Regions from separate parts of the Homo sapiens genome. Here region 2 is linked to region 1. Evidence: fine-mapped expression QTL. Tissue or cell type: whole blood. Region 1 holds a variant in brackets; the other region holds the start of a gene. All regions are shown on one strand. Distances are between the middles of the regions.

What was found. PIP is the estimated chance that this variant, and not a neighbour inherited with it, causes the effect.
Region 2: TMX4 starts here. The variant in region 1 is fine-mapped to the expression of TMX4 in whole blood (INTERVAL, PIP 0.96).

The regions. Positions count from the first base shown.
Region 1 is chr20:7,982,739-7,990,926 of GRCh38, reverse strand. TMX4 (thioredoxin related transmembrane protein 4) reads left to right here. Exons shown (of 8, transcript NM_021156.4): 6 at 3,538-3,639; 7 at 7,070-7,133. Among named protein-coding and RNA genes, the nearest start is that of TMX4, 33 kb to the left of the region's middle. RefSeq lists an enhancer at 6,154-6,771. The variant C/G (reference allele first, on the strand shown) is at 3,594.
Region 2 is chr20:8,016,639-8,024,826 of GRCh38, reverse strand. It overlaps TMX4 (thioredoxin related transmembrane protein 4), which reads left to right and starts at 5,066. Exons shown (of 8, transcript NM_021156.4): 1 at 5,066-5,389. The coding sequence starts at 5,214. It overlaps TMX4-AS1 (TMX4 antisense RNA 1), which reads right to left and starts at 4,921. Exons shown (of 7, transcript NR_184034.1): 1 at 4,723-4,921; 2 at 3,566-4,436; 3 at 2,672-2,768; 4 at 2,378-2,446; 5 at 2,060-2,270; 6 at 1,375-1,556. RefSeq lists silencers at 5,066-5,305, 5,416-5,555.

The DNA of each region.
Region 1 (8,188 bases):
TGTAAGGTACCTTTCATAGATCCTACAAGAGGCTGCAAGGTTATGTTTTGTTACAAGTGCTAAGAGCTAAAGCATGAAAGAGGTGAACCCTTGGCCATCATTGAAGAGTCTTTTCTAGCTGTTTCCTTGCAGGGAAGATATTTTGGGGATTCTGATCTGTGTCTGAAAGAGATAAAGGGCTTGTTCCAGAACTCCTCAGAGAGTATATCCTATGACACAGGTGAACTCTAAATCCAAAGGCTCTCTGTCCTTCAGGGCCAGTCTAGGTTTGAATGAGACTCTGCAACACTGGGCTGGATGAGTGGGTGTGACTAAGTAGTATTTAATCCAACCTGCAGTAGTTTAGACTTCCAGAGGGAGTGCTTGCCTTTCTGGGGAGGGAAGGCTCTACCTCAGATGCATGGAGGCCTTGGCTTGGCTGTCTTCCTTAAGTCTGTCTGACCACTGATTAGAATGCTCTTCTCATTTATTCTGTTGTAATGATGTTTTAATTTCATCTTCTCACTCAAATATGTATGTAGCCAAAAGTTAGCTCTAACTTAATCATGTACTATGATAGTATAAGGTGTCACACCCATCAGATGACATTTTAGTGCATTTTCAGTGAACAGACTAAGATTTTTTTTTTTTTTGAGGCAGAGTCTCACTGTGTCACCCAGGCTGGAGTGCAGTGGGGCGATCTCAGCTCACTGCAACCTCCGCCTACCGTGTTCAAGCAATTCTCCTGCCCCAGTCTCCCAAATAGCTGGGACTACAGGCGCCTGCCACCAAGCCCCACTAATTTTTGTATTTTTGTTAGAGACAGGGTTTCACCATATTGGCCAGGCTGGTCTCGAACTCCTGACCTCGTGATTCACCCGCCTCGGCCTTCCAAAGTGCTGGGATTACAGGTGTGAGCCACCGCGCCCAGCCCGAGTAAGATACTTTCTTATTCATCTAGTACCATAGTATAAGGTATCATGCCCATCAGTTTACATTTTTGTGCATTTTCAGCGAACAGCATGGGATATTTCCTTGTGGTAAGCACATATAATATTGAATAAGGATCAGTATTTTCCACAAGTGAAAACTGTCACTTTGCCTGGTAGTTAAAGAAACAGAAACACAATGATCTAAAACTGAATTGGATTTTATTTAATAAGCTATTCCTTTGGAAACATATATAAAGCAAAACTTCAAGGACATGGTACCACTAATCCTAACACTCATAAGGGGCTTTAAAGCTGTTGTAGACTCAGACAAAGTAGACAGATAAATATTTATATCTGTAGTTGTGAAAGTACAACCTGATTAATGAATAGTTACTAATAATGACCTAAAAGACCAGAAGATGGCAGAGTTTCTCCAAGAAACTCAAATTCCGTTAAAGAGGAAATTGATACAAGAAAATTGAAGTGCAGCTTATTAAAATAAGAGGATGTTTTGAAAGTACTAAGTGTTTGAGTCAGAATGCAATGCTTCAAAAGCAAATGATTTAATGAAATTTAAAAATAATTTAGAAAGTTTCTTGAGAGTTGCATTAATCATTTATTTTGCAGAAAGGGCATGAGATACTGTATAGAAGGACTTAAAACTGCACATTATTTTTCCTAACCATATGAGTAAGATAAATCAGCAGATACTTATAAAGCAAGTTCTAAAATACATTCATGGGTTGACACAGAGGCAGATTGACTTTGACCATCTTCTAATTCTTTGGCACATTTCCGGGTTTAATATTGATGATACTGAGTCCTCCGAGAAAAGCATAAGCTTAATACACAGTATTTTCTAAAGTAGGAAACTATACAGTAAATTTTAAAACTTTCTTTGAAAAGAGTTTGAATGAAATGATGTTTTGATATCTCAAACACGCCTTTTGCTTGCTGAGTTGTAAAATGCTAAGTTACTTTTTTTTTTTTTTTCTTGAGACGGAGTCTTGCCCTGTCACCCAGGCTGGAGTGCAGTGGCGCAATCTCAGCCCACTCCCTCTGCCTCCGGGGTTCAAGCAATTCTCCTGCCTCAATCCCCTGAGTAGCTAGGATTATAGGCGCTTGCCACTACGCCCAGCTGATTTTTGTATTTTTAGTAGAAACAGGGTTTCACCATGTTGGTCAGGCTGGTCTCGAACTCCTGACTTCGTGATCTGCCCGCCTCGGCCTCCCAAAGTGCTGGGATTACAGGCATGAGTCACCGTGTCCAGCCAAGTTACTCTTAATAAACAGTTGTCCTGGCTAAACACACACTGATGACCAGTGCCATCAACAGAGGACAGATGCCAGCTTTACAGTTTGAGAGTGTGTTTGCCTTTCGTATGAATAAATAGCTCAGGCATTTGATGCATCTTTTCCTTATTCAACAAATACTGATTGAACACTTTGATTCCATGTGTCAGTGTTTAAACTACTTGCTGCGTCTTTAGCTCTATCTCTTCTGCTGAATAAGAAATTGTAGAGAGATATTTCAGATTTTGCTAAATCAGTTTACAAGCTTTGTTCTTTATTTATCATTCCAAATTAAGCCAGAATAAAATATGTTTTTTAATTGCATTGACATAAACTAAGAAACCAATGGGAGTGATTTAGATTTTGAGAAATAGGAAATTAAAATAGAAACTTGGACTCATTTTCATCAACCTTACTGGTTCTAGGGAAGTCATTGTCATTACCTCTCTTGCTGATGATATTTGGAGCCATATCATCCTGTGTCCAGTAGTTACTTGAATTTTAATGGCCATTTTTGAAGCTGTCAGGGTCTTGAACAAATGACTAAGTGATTGTGAGGAAGCATGGCTCCTGCAACTCTACATCTAAGTAGGTTTTGACTTTGAAATAGCAAGTTCATATCTGTTAATTTCTTTATGATTTAGCATGTAAATACTTTCTAGCTGTGATTATGTCCCTTCACTCATTTTTAGAGTGTTTGTCATCAAATAGAGTCTTAGGGAACAGTAAGCATGAAGGGATATACACTCTATTCAAAGACTGCTGGAATCTCATTTGCTCATAATAAATTAATCAGAAAAACTTTCTTCTGTCTACTGTTACATTTTATGTTTTCTGGTAATTTACCAAACTTTGAAAGGATGAATAGGTGTAGAGCAATGAGAGTCTAATTAGGAAAAAGAGGTATGGAGACATTTTAAATGATTGACGTTCTGTAAGTCGTAATTTAGTTTTACTAAAAAGTCAGAGGCCCAAAAAGTTTAATTTTTTCATGAATGCCCTATTATAAGTAAACATTGAGATGTATATAATTATTAGGGGAGGAGGGCCAAAAGCATCCATCATGATGGAAGAAAGGACTATCAAAACGATTCTACCAGAATTCTATCCAGATTATGAACTCTAAGCAAGTATAACTTTTTTTTTAGTAATGACCTTAATTACTACTCTCAGTTTCCCAATATTATAAAATTGACTTGTTCTTTAAGAATCATTTAGATACATAAAGCTTTGTGGGAACCTATGTATGTAGAAACAACAGCTAGAGAGAGAGATTGAAATATTTTTGGTTCTCTTAAAAATTAATGTTTTATTTTTTTTCTTCTGATTCCAGCATCTTCACAACTATTTCACAGTGACTCTTGGAATTCCTGCTTGGTGTTCTTATGT[C/G]TTTTTCGTCATAGCCACCTTGGTTTTTGGCCTTTTTATGGGTCTGGTAAGAGATAATACCAAACTTTTTCTATCTTTAAGGCAAAATGAATTTCATGTACAAATAAAAGGCAGCCAAGAAAGAAAAAGCACATAAAAAATAGTATTTTGTGCAATCTAAGTAGTTAAATAGCATTTGCTTGTTTGAGACTGCTTTCAATGGTAATGTGAGATATAACAGAAAATTTATTAAATTCTTATCCCCTAATCCTATCCCTTAAGTATTTTGAAGATGTGTACTGCCTATAGACAGTAATTAAAAAAAAAAAAAAAAAGAGACCTTACTAGAATTGATAGTTTCTAAGACAACTGAGTCAGCTGTGATTTCACACATTGCCTGCTTAATTAGAAACACTGTAGTGATAAGGCCAAGGTTTTGAATTTGTTCCTTGTGTAGATGCAAGATTGTTGTTGTTGTTGTTCTTATCCTCCAGTTAAACTAATCCTGACTAGCCGCTTATGCATACACTCTGGTTTTCCTGAGATAGATAATGTAGTTAACACAACACAATTATTCTTTGGGCATGAAAATCAGTATGCAGTATATATCTCCCCAGGTATTTTCTCCCCAGGTATTTCAGGCAAGAGTTGAATAATAAATTTATTTATCTAACTACATAGGCAACTATAAATGTTCAGCATGTTGTACTTCTTGTTATTTTTTATTTCTCTTAACCTAATCTTGATTAGTTTGATTGCATTTTAAACCCTAATTAAACCAAAAAGTTTTTAAAAACCTTTATATTGTATACTAAACACATAGTTCCTAAACACTATAATGGGAATAATTGATGATTACTAAAAATTTATGTCAAAGAACAGACTTTAAGGTAAGATTATCTTAAAGTCTGTCCTTATATTTTATAATGAATTTTGGCTCTTTAGCAAGTTCTTTTTAAAAATGTTAACAATTGACTTATAGTAAGTCACAACCCCAAGAGGCCAAGGAGGCTCGATTTGACTTTTCTATGAACATGCTTAATACATATCATGGCTTATCTTTGAAACTTGGCTCCTGATGTTAACTTCAGGGATAAGAATGGGACTTACTTAGATATCTGTATATGTCCTTCATTAGGTCCTGGGTATGTTCTGTTCTGTTGCATTAATCTTTTTGCTAATTAACATGTCCCCATTGCTCCCGTCTAAAGGGATTTGACACCGGATATAAATAGAATGTGATTGTCTGTGCTTCTCCCATCTGTTGTCTGGTGCGAGATTTTTCTAGCAGTGTATTTTGGGGCTACCATAGTGTGAGGTTCTTGTAGGGGGAAACAGTATGAGGTCCCAGGCGAGTCAATGATGGAGTTATAGGGAATGTAGGTTGTGTGTGACCCTGTTGGAAGACTAGTGAAAATGCTTAGAGTTTTAGAATATTATTTTTGATGTTGACTTTAAGTCCATGAAATTGAGTCAGGCCTGCCTGCCTATGCCTTAGATTCCTTTGGAAACCTAGATTCAGATAATCAGTGTAGAAAGGTTATTGGAGGCTTGGCCTGAAGAAAGGAGAGAGTGATTCTAGCCTGTTCAAGTGATTAAGTGAGATAGACTACCCTTCCTTAATAAGAAAATAACTTTATTTAACAAAATATTATTAACTTTATTAACGAAATAATAATTTCAAAGCATATGAATCATAAATTATAAAAGATTCATACATTTACTGTTAATAAGTTTCCAAAAAATAACAAACACATATCTGTGTTCAAAGTACCTGTTTTAGGCTGGGCACAGTGGCTCAGGCCTGTAATCCTGGCACTCTGGGAGGCTGAGGCAGGTGGATCATTTGAGCCCAGGAGTTTGAGACCAGCCTTGGCAACATGGTAAAACCCTGTCTCTACAAAAATACAAAAATTAGCCTGGCATGGTGGCACACACCTGTAGTCCCAGCTACTCGGGAGGCTGAGGTGGGAGGATCACTTGAGCCCAGGAGTTCGAGGCTGCTGTGAGCCATAATCTTGCCACTGTACTCCAGCCTGGGTGACAGAGCTAGACCCTGTCTCAAAAAAAAAAAAAATATATATATATATATATATACACACACACACATATATATACACACACACACAGAATGCCTTTTCTATAACTGTTAAGTATATTAAAGTAAACACACAACTGCTAGAATTTTTGCTTTTAGTAACCTTTAATTTCTTATGTACTTTCAACTTCTGTTTTGTGAGAGTTACACAATTTGAAACAGCTGCATTCTTATCCCAATTTAAATCACCTATTCCAGAATGACATTTTTGTTAACTTCTAGGATGATAGAAAAGTGTTTGTCAATTGTTTTCATGTCTTAGCCACATAGAGAATATTTACGTAGCATGCCAGGGTAAAGGAATACTGGGGGACAAAGCTGCCTGAGGCTGGCTCTGAATGGCCCAGACTCCTTGAAGGATGACATGTCTGTTGGGAAGCTAGGATCCAAATTTTTTTTTTTTGTAATCTCACCAACTGAGTCAAAATTAAATGAGTAAATTAGATAGACTAAACCTGAGATAAAATTGTTGAGTGTACAATTTTCCAGAATAGAAGAGTAGGATAAATTAAGATGATGGATATGGTAATTACACTGATTTGATCATTATACTGTAATACATGCATTGAAACATCACATTGTACCCCATCAGTATATATAGTTACTGTGTGTCAATTATAAATAAAAAAGAAAAGTCAGAAAGAAACATTATGTCCTAGAATAGCCAGTAAGCATATAACTATCACATTAAAAGGTAAGGTTTTCAAACCTGAATCATTTCAGATGGAATGTTTTTTTTTCTCTTTGTTGTTCAAATTGATTTAATGGCTTAGAGCTTATTGTTCTCCAACCCACCAAGCCTTCCTGCAACTCATTGCCCCACCTCCTGGGTCTCCTCAGTTTGACATTCAGGGCTTTCTCTGGATCCAAGACCCCCATGGAGATCCAACTTAGTTTAGCTTAGAGCAGCCAGGCGGTGCTGCTGTTCTCTCCTGACTGCCCAGGGCATTAAATGCCTCCTCCTTCAAAGTCATCCTCAATCCTTCCCCACCCACAGCTGGCTGTAACATTTGTGAAATGTTCTTCCATTCAATCAGGGGTTACCCGTTGGTGAGGGGCAGCCTATATACAGAGTGGTTTGGTTGTCCAGAATAGTGTATTTAAAAAGACTTGGTTCATAGTGTCTATCTTCTTATACCTGCTTGGTTCATCTATTTATAGTGGGTTCTCTGTAGACTTTTGGCTTTGTGACCACTTTCTAAATTAATATTTTCCTGTATTATGTCACATTTGAAAAGTAGGAAATTCTTAATTATATCCTTGTCTCTTGTGAAGACTTTTGACTAGCTGCTAATTATTAGTCTAAGAATATCTGATTATAGAAGCAAGGCCTAATTTTGAGGTCCTTTGGTAATAAATGTCCTATCTATTCACTGTAAAATCACTTTTTTCCTTCCAGGTCTTGGTGGTAATATCAGAATGTTTCTATGTGCCACTTCCAAGGCATTTATCTGAGCGTTCTGGTAAGTACGATAAGCTCCTGTGATCTAGAGTGTTTTTGGAATTCTGTGATGTGCCTTTTTGTGCTCATATAGATAGTGGGTTTTCTCTGTGATTTACTAGGTGACCAAATAATCACTACCAAATTTCTTAAAATGTGTTTTCTAGGTAGATTTGAACAAAATTATTTTTCTCCCTTTCTTAAATTAGGAAATATTTCATTTTGGCAATTGCTTTTTCTTTTTAAGTATGTGCTCTTCATTAATCAGTGTCATATTTTCCTTTATTCTAACTAGAACTAGAAGGGAAGAAGGGAAACTCAATATATATTGCTTCTGCTGTGTGCTAGTAACTCTTCTAAGTCCTTTAAAAGCAGTCTTCCCAAATCCTTGCACTGCTCCACACTTCTTCTGGGGCCAGGTGCCTCTGGATTTGCATGTCTTTATTCCAGACTATTTTTGAGACTGCATAAAGATGTTCATGAGACTTTCTAATTGTTGAATTTTATGTGGGAGTTTAAATAAGCTCATGTTTCTTTTTAGTTCTTGAAGTTTTTGAGGCTTTGAGACTTCCATTGATAATTTGAAAATATGATTCTTAGATTTCTTAAAAGTAATAGAAACCCAATATCAAGGATTTTAGGAAAACAAATGAAAATTTATTAGCTCACATAACTGAAAAGCCCAGGGACATTCTAGCTTCAAGCACGGCCCAAGTGATGTTAGGTTTCTCTGTCTGTGTGGCTTATTCATAAGAGCTGTTGATAGTCCTTGCGCATTTTCTCTGTTTAAAAATCCCTGAAGAAAAAGAGGCTGTTTCTCCTGACTCTGGCCCAGAACCTCTGTGGAGTACTTTGAGTGGCTTAGCATGTCACATTTCTGAACCAATCACCATGACCAATAGGGTCACTGAGCTTTCTACAAGACACAAAATACCGAGCGTAAAGGACCCTTTGCCCTTGCTGCCCACATGCCCTGCTGAAGTCATTATGGTCCATGAAATCTCCAGAGACAGGTGGAGAAGCCCTAAATGGGGCTAGGATGCCAACCAGAGAATCTGTCCTATATGACCATAGTTT
Region 2 (8,188 bases), 34 kb before region 1:
GCACCATGACATTGTCCTGGGGTTGCTTCTTAGAGGCTTATCAAGTCTTCTGGATTTGTCTCTAGGCACAAGCCTGGGTGCAATTCAGTGTATTTTCATCATTCATGGTTTCTTCTACCATCTGTTCTAGGAAATATTACTGTGTCCTATTTAAATTCTCCATTCTACCTCTTGTTCCTGTAAGGCATTTAGCAAATCTGTTTGTGTAATTAAATTTTTGTACTATTATTACTTTATGGACTAATTTTACAGCATTGCTTAACTTATTTAATATTTCCATACTGGTTTTACCATCTTCGTTAGGAAAACCATTGTATAACTATACCCTATTATTACAGAGTTTGTAATCTGAATACCATCTCCTTATCTTTCATTGATTATCCTCTTAATATCAAGTCCTGACCTACTTTTATCAAAGGCATTGTCTATAGCTATGTATTAAAATTTTCTACCATTAGAATATAAGTTTTATCCCTCTTGGTAAATCGTTTTCCTACTCCATTATTCAAGGGTAAAATAGGTGTGTTTACATAATTCTCAACATACACTTTTGAATCTTTTTTTCAATAAGCTTAACAAAAATTCTGTAACATTTAATGAACACTTAAATACCAAGGCATCAATCCATCTACCCGCCCACAGGCTTGAAAATCATTTTCTCCAATACCTTTGCATAAGATGCATCTTACAGGACCTACTCACAGAAGGTAAAAACGGAGAGGCAGTTCTTACTCTGCTCTCTGAAAATATCACCTCCCCTCCAAAATAAAGAACTCTCAGCTGTTCATAAATAAGTATTCAAAGGAAGGCAGTGAGTTAGTCAAAATAGGCTAGACTATGCTTCAGTGACAATTCCAAATTTTCAGAGTGGCTTTTTGATAGTATGGCTGCAATTTATTTTGCTGCTTCTTATTAAAGGATAGTCTAATTCCTCTCCCCTTCAGTCTGGTGTGTCTTCAGTGCCTTGACTAATAGAATGAGGTAGAAACGACACTCTTAGACTTCTAGAGCAATGCAGTTTCCACCTTCTGGGAACTCTTGCTCTAGAGAAATTAAGTATGACAGCCCTCAAACTGCCATGCTGAAGGAAGCCGAAGCCAGCCACATGGAGAGACTGCGTGGATAAGAGCAATGCCTGTGCAGTCCCCAGCTGTTCCAGCCAGCCTACACTAAGTGCCAGATGTGGGTGCAAGGGACTTCAACTAATTCTGGCCTCGGCCTCCAGGGGTCTGCCACCATATAAAAGAGTACAAGCAAATATAGCCCAGCTGAGCTCTTGAACCCCCAAAACCATGAGAGGTGAGTTTTGGGATGGTTGATTAGGCAGAAATAGTTAACCTGAATAATCTCTCATAGTGAAAACGTATTTCTTACCTTTGTAAAGTCCTTTTAAGAATCCTGGGAACCACCCAATGCTGCTATTCTCCACCAGGCAGCTCAGCAATTCAGGCTGCTCTGGTCTTGTAGACTCTTAGATCATGATCTTTTCTCTAAAATTTCCACAGCAGGAGAACAGAACACTGGGACATTTTGTGCCGGTGATTAAATACTTCAGCCTGGAAATGATACATACCCACCCCTTCCATTTGTAGCCCATTGGCCAATTCATATAAATATGACTAACTTCTGAGGGGTGTAGGAGCATCCTCCTCTGTGGGGCAGGGAAAGAGAGGGGGACTAGATAGGATCTACCACACTCTTCTTCCCCTCTCTCCTGCTAATGATGTTACCTCATCAGAGGCCTAGGAATTCCTTTGCCTACTAGGAACCACATATTTTTGTGTAATCATAGCTGCCCTGCAGTGCCACCATCACTCTGGGGGAAAAAGCCTTTTCTCCTAGTACCAGGTACCAATCTTCTTAAACCTGTAAATCCACGTTTTAAACATAAACATGGATCACACACTGACCTAGCATAGCATTACAGCATAACAAATTGCCCCAAATCTTAGTGGCTTGATATTATGTAACAACATTGATTACCTCACAGTTTCCGTGGGTGGAGGTCCCAGCTAAGCTAAGCTTTGCCCCCTGGTTCTGGGTCATTTATAAGGCTCACCCGTCTCAAGAGCACTGGTGACAGATTTGCTTCTAGGTCACTCATGTGGTTGTTTGAAGATCCAGTTCTTTGAGGGCTGTTGGGCTGAGGTCTCAGTTGCTTAGGCTGCAGACCTCCCTTGTCACATGGAGCTCTCCACACAGAGTCGCAGAGTGAGTGTGCAAGAGGAAAAGAAGTTTCCAGCAAAATGGAAGTCTCAGGTTTTTGTAACCTTAACAAAGAAGTGATAATCCATCAGTTTTCCCATCTTCTGTTAGAAGTGGGTCACCAGGCCCAACCCACACTCAAGAGGAAAGGATCACACAAGGGCCTGAATACCAGGAGGGAGAGATCTTGGGAGGAGTGCCAGAAGCTGTCTATCCCAAGTACATCTATGGGATGGGTATTCTGCAATACAGGGGACACAAAGATATATAAGGTAAAGCCCTTGACCTTGAAGAGTTTTTAGTAGTGGTTGGAGGAGTGAGGGTAGAGGGTGATAGCTACATATAAATGCATTATACTATGAAAGGTATGTGGTGAAGTTATTGTATTAGTCCATTTTCACGCTGCTGATAAAGACATACCCGAGACGGGGTAATTTATACAGGAAAAAGTGTTTATTCAACTCACAGTTCCTCATGGCTGGGGAAGCCTCACAATCATGGTGGAAGGCACGGAGGAGTAAGTCATGTCTTACGCGGATGGCAGCAGGCCAAAAGAGAGACAGCTTGTGCAGGGAAATTACCATTTTTAAAACCATCAGATCTCATGAGACTTATTCACTATCACGAGAACAACATGGGAAAGACCCGCCCCCATGATTCAATTATCTCCCATGGGGTCCCTCCCACAACACGTGGGAATTAGGGGAGCTACAAAATGTGATTTGGATGGGGACACAGAGCCAAACCATATCAGTTATACAGAAGAGCAATTGGATCTGAGAAGAGACAGCAGCTCATTCTGCATGAGCTATCAGAGGTACAGTGTGGACTACATGACAGAGACTGAATGATTCACTGGACAACTGGAGAAGAGTGTTCTAATCAGAATGAAGGAGCAAGGAGACACTGAAGTACACAATGTGCTTTGGGAATGGGGAGTAGCTTTGTGTTACTAGGACACAGGGAACTCTGGGAATAGTGGAATGTAAAGTGGGCAAAACTGAAGCTGGGCTGTGAGAGGCATTGTGTATCATGCTAAGTGAAGTTAACTTTAGTATAAGAAAAATAGACATTACAGCGTATTGTTGCCTCCAAATAATAATATTAGTGTTGGCAATATTGTGGCAAAAACCACAATTATGTTTGCACCAACCTAATATGTAAGCTTTTTGAGTTAGAATATGTGCTAGGCATTATTCTTATCTCATATAATCTTCACAGCCACCTTTTGGAGCAGGTTCTATTACTACCCGCATTTTAAGAGAACTTTGGTGTGGACTAGTTTTAGCCCCAAATCACATGGCTAGGAAGTGTCAGGGCTAAGATGCCAATCATGGTCTGACAGCAACAGGTCCCTTACCCTGGTCTGTGACTCCTTACGGCAAGGTCAGTCCCATACTTCCTTGCTACTTTCTTCCTACCATCCTTAGTCTGAAGGCTAAGACTTCAGTTTTTGTTAAAGATAGGAAATGCTTTGGTAATGGCTGTCTTTCATGCTGAAGATGCTCTCTCTCCTTTTAGCTTTTCATTTTGTAAATTTTCCAACATATGCATGAGTAGGTAAAGTAGCAAAATGAACTTAGCTTCAACACTGACTGATGTTGCACCACTTTTCTTTCACCTATCTTCTTTCCATTCCCTACATTTTATTTCTGGAGCATTGTAAAACAAATTCTACACATCATTCTATCATGAAAGTGATAAAATGACAGAATTCCTGTTTATGAGTCACTTCTTTTTACAAGCACAGTAAAATGTTTTCCATTGAGTTTATGGAATTGATATGTATGTACTTAATAACAGTGAGTCTTAGTAGCATTCATTGCAAAGACATTTTCTTAAATTTCAATAGTTTGTAAACCCTTGAGTGTTTTATTTTAATGATAAGGGCTAGGTCCACATAGTTTTTAGCTAATACTAATTAATGCATAATGCAGGCCAGATCTTCTCTTCAGGCAAAATTAACTTCCCTCTCCTATAAGTATTGATTGAAATTTGCTCTCATGTGCCCTGAAGTACTTTTAGTCTTATTGCTGTCTTTGTTTTAAGCCGAGGGCAGAAACCACATCCTTTTCATGGTCTATTAACCACATTACCGAGGTTCATGGTTTGCACAACTAGTAAACACATACAAAGCACCCTTTGAGAAAGCTTCCTCATCCTTTAATTGTAATCCAGTCTTATATATTAACGGTGTGGTGGTCCCAAGGTACAGATTCATCTAATGTGACCTGGAAAGAAATTTGGAAATCACTTAAGGCTACCCTCATTTTAGATCTGACAAAACTGTAGTCAAGAGAAATGTGAGGTCCATTTTACTGCAGGTGGCAATAGTCTTAATTGACTCATTTTATCGGCTAGTACCCATGTTTTTAAGAGTTTCTATGAAATTAACATTTTTTGTAAAAAAAATGCAATTGCATAGGCTAGTTTCATCAATATCCTAAATTAGTGATGCTTCAATATACACATGCAGAGTACTTAAATTTTCCTCTCTCTTCAGCAGGAGATACTCACCACGTCCCTCCATTTTTCATTAAACATACGTGTACCTTGCAGCCCGTTGCTTTTATATTTGCTATCATTGAAGAGGGGATGGATTTTAAAATTACTGGCCATGTTTCCCTTTAGAGAAGCCCACACGCGCCAACCCTGCCCTTATTGGAGCCTGGGCAGCAGCGGTGCATGTTCTAACTTAGGCAACGTTGGGTCATCTGTTTATTGTCAGCTTGGCGGTCAGGAAGAAAGGGCGGTGGTTGCTGAGGTAACCGACACCCCGGGCAACGGCAAGTGGAGGCGGGAGGGGGCGTGGCCTCGACGGGCAAGCGGCGATAAGAGGTGGCGTCCTCCGCGGCATTGCGAGCACCGCCAGTCTGCGCCGCTAGGCGTAGGCGGGGTGGCCCTTGCGTCTCCCGCTTCCTTGAAAAACCCGGCGGGCGAGCGAGGCTGCGGGCCGGCCGCTGCCCTTCCCCACACTCCCCGCCGAGAAGCCTCGCTCGGCGCCCAACATGGCGGGTGGGCGCTGCGGCCCGCAGCTAACGGCGCTCCTGGCCGCCTGGATCGCGGCTGTGGCGGCGACGGCAGGCCCCGAGGAGGCCGCGCTGCCGCCGGAGCAGAGCCGGGTCCAGCCCATGACCGCCTCCAACTGGACGCTGGTGATGGAGGGCGAGTGGATGCTGAAATTGTGAGTGTGCCCGCCCGCCCCGGACGCCGCAGTGTCCTCGCGGGCGTCACCCTCCCAAGCCCGCGCGGCCCGGTGGCGATCCCGCATTGCCGCTTGGGCTCAACCTAAAACCCCGGACCAGGCTTGCCAACAACCTGCGGCGCCGGTGCCGGGCCGCTTGCGATCCTGCACTGCCGCTGGGCTCGACCTGGGGTCCGCGGACCCGCCTTACCAACGACCTGCGGCTGTGGGGCCCGGCCGCTCGCGCCGCGCATGCGCGCCGAGCCCTCGCGGTGACAGCCGAGGGTGCAGCGCGTCCCCTTGCTTTGGGGGACAGTGTTTTCGGGGTGGAGTGGGCAGCTTCCCATAGGGAGGAGAAGGGAAGGAAGAAAATCTGCAAGCAAACCGTGTGCTTTTAGATACAGATATGTATTGGAAGAGAAAGGACATTCAGTGACATCCACGTGCAGTATGAATACGTAGCACAGGCTAAGCAAGTTACCTGTTGAAGAAATTGCAGCACGGTGAAGGCAGGCCATTTGTGTCGTAGTCTTCCGTTTGAAGACCTGGAGATGTCATTGTGAGAATAAAACATAAATATGGATGCCTTTTAAATTTTACAGTATGATTTCAAATAAATGTTGATACTTATTATAACTTGTAAAGGTAGGACTTTCTGAGTAATATTAATAATTGTGCCATAAAGAAAAGAAGATACGCATTGCCCCTTTTAACAATAGAAAGCAAATGGTGGATAGTGCCTTTTCTTTAAGGAGATGGGAAACTACAGTTTTGAGTTAGGAGAAAGAAAGGGATTTGTTGATTATAGTTTAACCTTATAATAGGAAGTGACCATTTGAAAGAGGCTTGCAGTGGATGGTGGGCAGATGTCTGAGCGGGCTTGAGAGACCATCATGGTGGGCTTGCAGACTCTCTCTCTCTCTCTCTCTCTCTCTCTCTCTCTCTCTCTCTCTCTCCCCCTCCCTCCCTCCCTCCCTCCCTCCCTCCCCCTCTCTCTCTCTCTCCTCTCTCTCTTCTCTCTCTCTCTCTCTCCCTCCCTCCCTCCCTCTCTCTCTCTCTCCTCTCTCTCCTCTCTCTCTCTCTCTCTCCCTCCTCTCTCTCTCTCTCTCTCTCTGTCTCTCTCTCCCCTCCCACAACTCCTTTCCACCCTACCTGCCCCCCTCCCGCCCCCACCCCCCAAACATAAAATCTTTCAGGAAATTGCCACATCTCTTTAGCCTGTGGTTTCTGGCAATCTGTATACTACTATTGAATCTTTGTTTTACGTTGAGGACACAGACAGAAAATTGGATCTTTCCTTTATCCAAGACCAAGTTTTGATTCTTTCAATTTAAATTGCAAGCAGGTGCCTATGGAGTGAAAACCTCAGTGTGAGATCAGAGCCAAAATTTATGTCACACAGCAGATTACATTGCTCGAAGAACATAAGGCATATCACCCCTTCAAATGTGCATTTACCTCTTAGTCACAAAGAAGGGGATATTTTAGACCTCCAAATGAAATACCCTTGGTATCATAATAAATCAATGAAATTATTAAAGGGAACTGTAGACATGAATTATTAAAATATTCCACTTAACTATTTTTGGAAGAAGGTGAGGGGGTCATATTCTATTTGAGAAACTTTTAAAATAAGTGGAGCTGTGTTAAGACTTCCATGTTTGTAATAATTTTAAGAGTTTGGGATAAACTGCATTTTGTCAGCCAATACTACAGAAAGTTCTCTTTTCAGTAGGTGCTTACAAAATGGACTTTTTCCTAGATGTCATCTTTCAGGGTAAAACTGAGTTTGCATATGTATGTAAGAAAAGTTAAAACAGAAAGGCCTCCTCATTTTTAATGACTTCAACTCCTCTATGGTTCCTTTTGGAATTGCTTTTTTTTTGGTAATAGAATTAAGAACACTAAAGCCTCAATAAGTTTTTGAGGGAGAGCCAACAACATCTGTGCTTGGCCATGTTGATGGTTCAAATTTTACTTTTTTATGAATGTATAAACCTAAACATAGTAATCAATTGCTCTGAGTTTGTCATGTGTCCAGTTGTATGGAATATGCTTGGCCTGTGATGCCAGATGAGTCTTGTAATCTGGAAGTAAGCTGTGTAGACACAAGGTCATTTTAGTAGACATTCTCTTTTTATCGAGTGCACTTCAGAATAGGTGGCTAGGAAGCAAGGCTGTCAATGAAAATTGATCCAAACCATTCCATCCAACTTCTTTATACGCACTAAAACCCAAGTGCTCATCCTGAAGAAATATTTTGGTTCTTATCTATTTGTGATCTATTTTTTTCTGTATTATCAGGTGATACTCCTCCTCCTTGCTGTGAAAAAAACTCCAGTACTTAAAAAAATATAAAATTCATTATATCCTCCATACCACTAGAGGCCTGCTATGAATTTCTAAGAATTCATTTAAATAGCCTATACGTTACCAGATTTTTTTTTTTATGTATATAACAGAGAAAAACAAAATGCATTAAAATTAGCTTCATCTTGACACTTAGTTCAGATGAGCTGGTCATACATAAATGGAAATTGTTAGTAGTTCAAAGATGTTGTAGTTAACTTCTTTAAAGAAACAGATTGAGAAGCTTTTGTTGTAGTTAACTTCTTTAAAGACACAGATTGAGAAGCTTTCCGATATCAAAATGTATTCATTACTTTGAATGAGAGTTCTTTATTTGTTCATTTGCTTATATGCGCTCTTTCATCTGGGAATTTTTTCTTTTATACGCCACGTCATACAGATCCCCTCTAATGCAGTTTCTGGTTATATTGGTATAGATAATTTATTCTT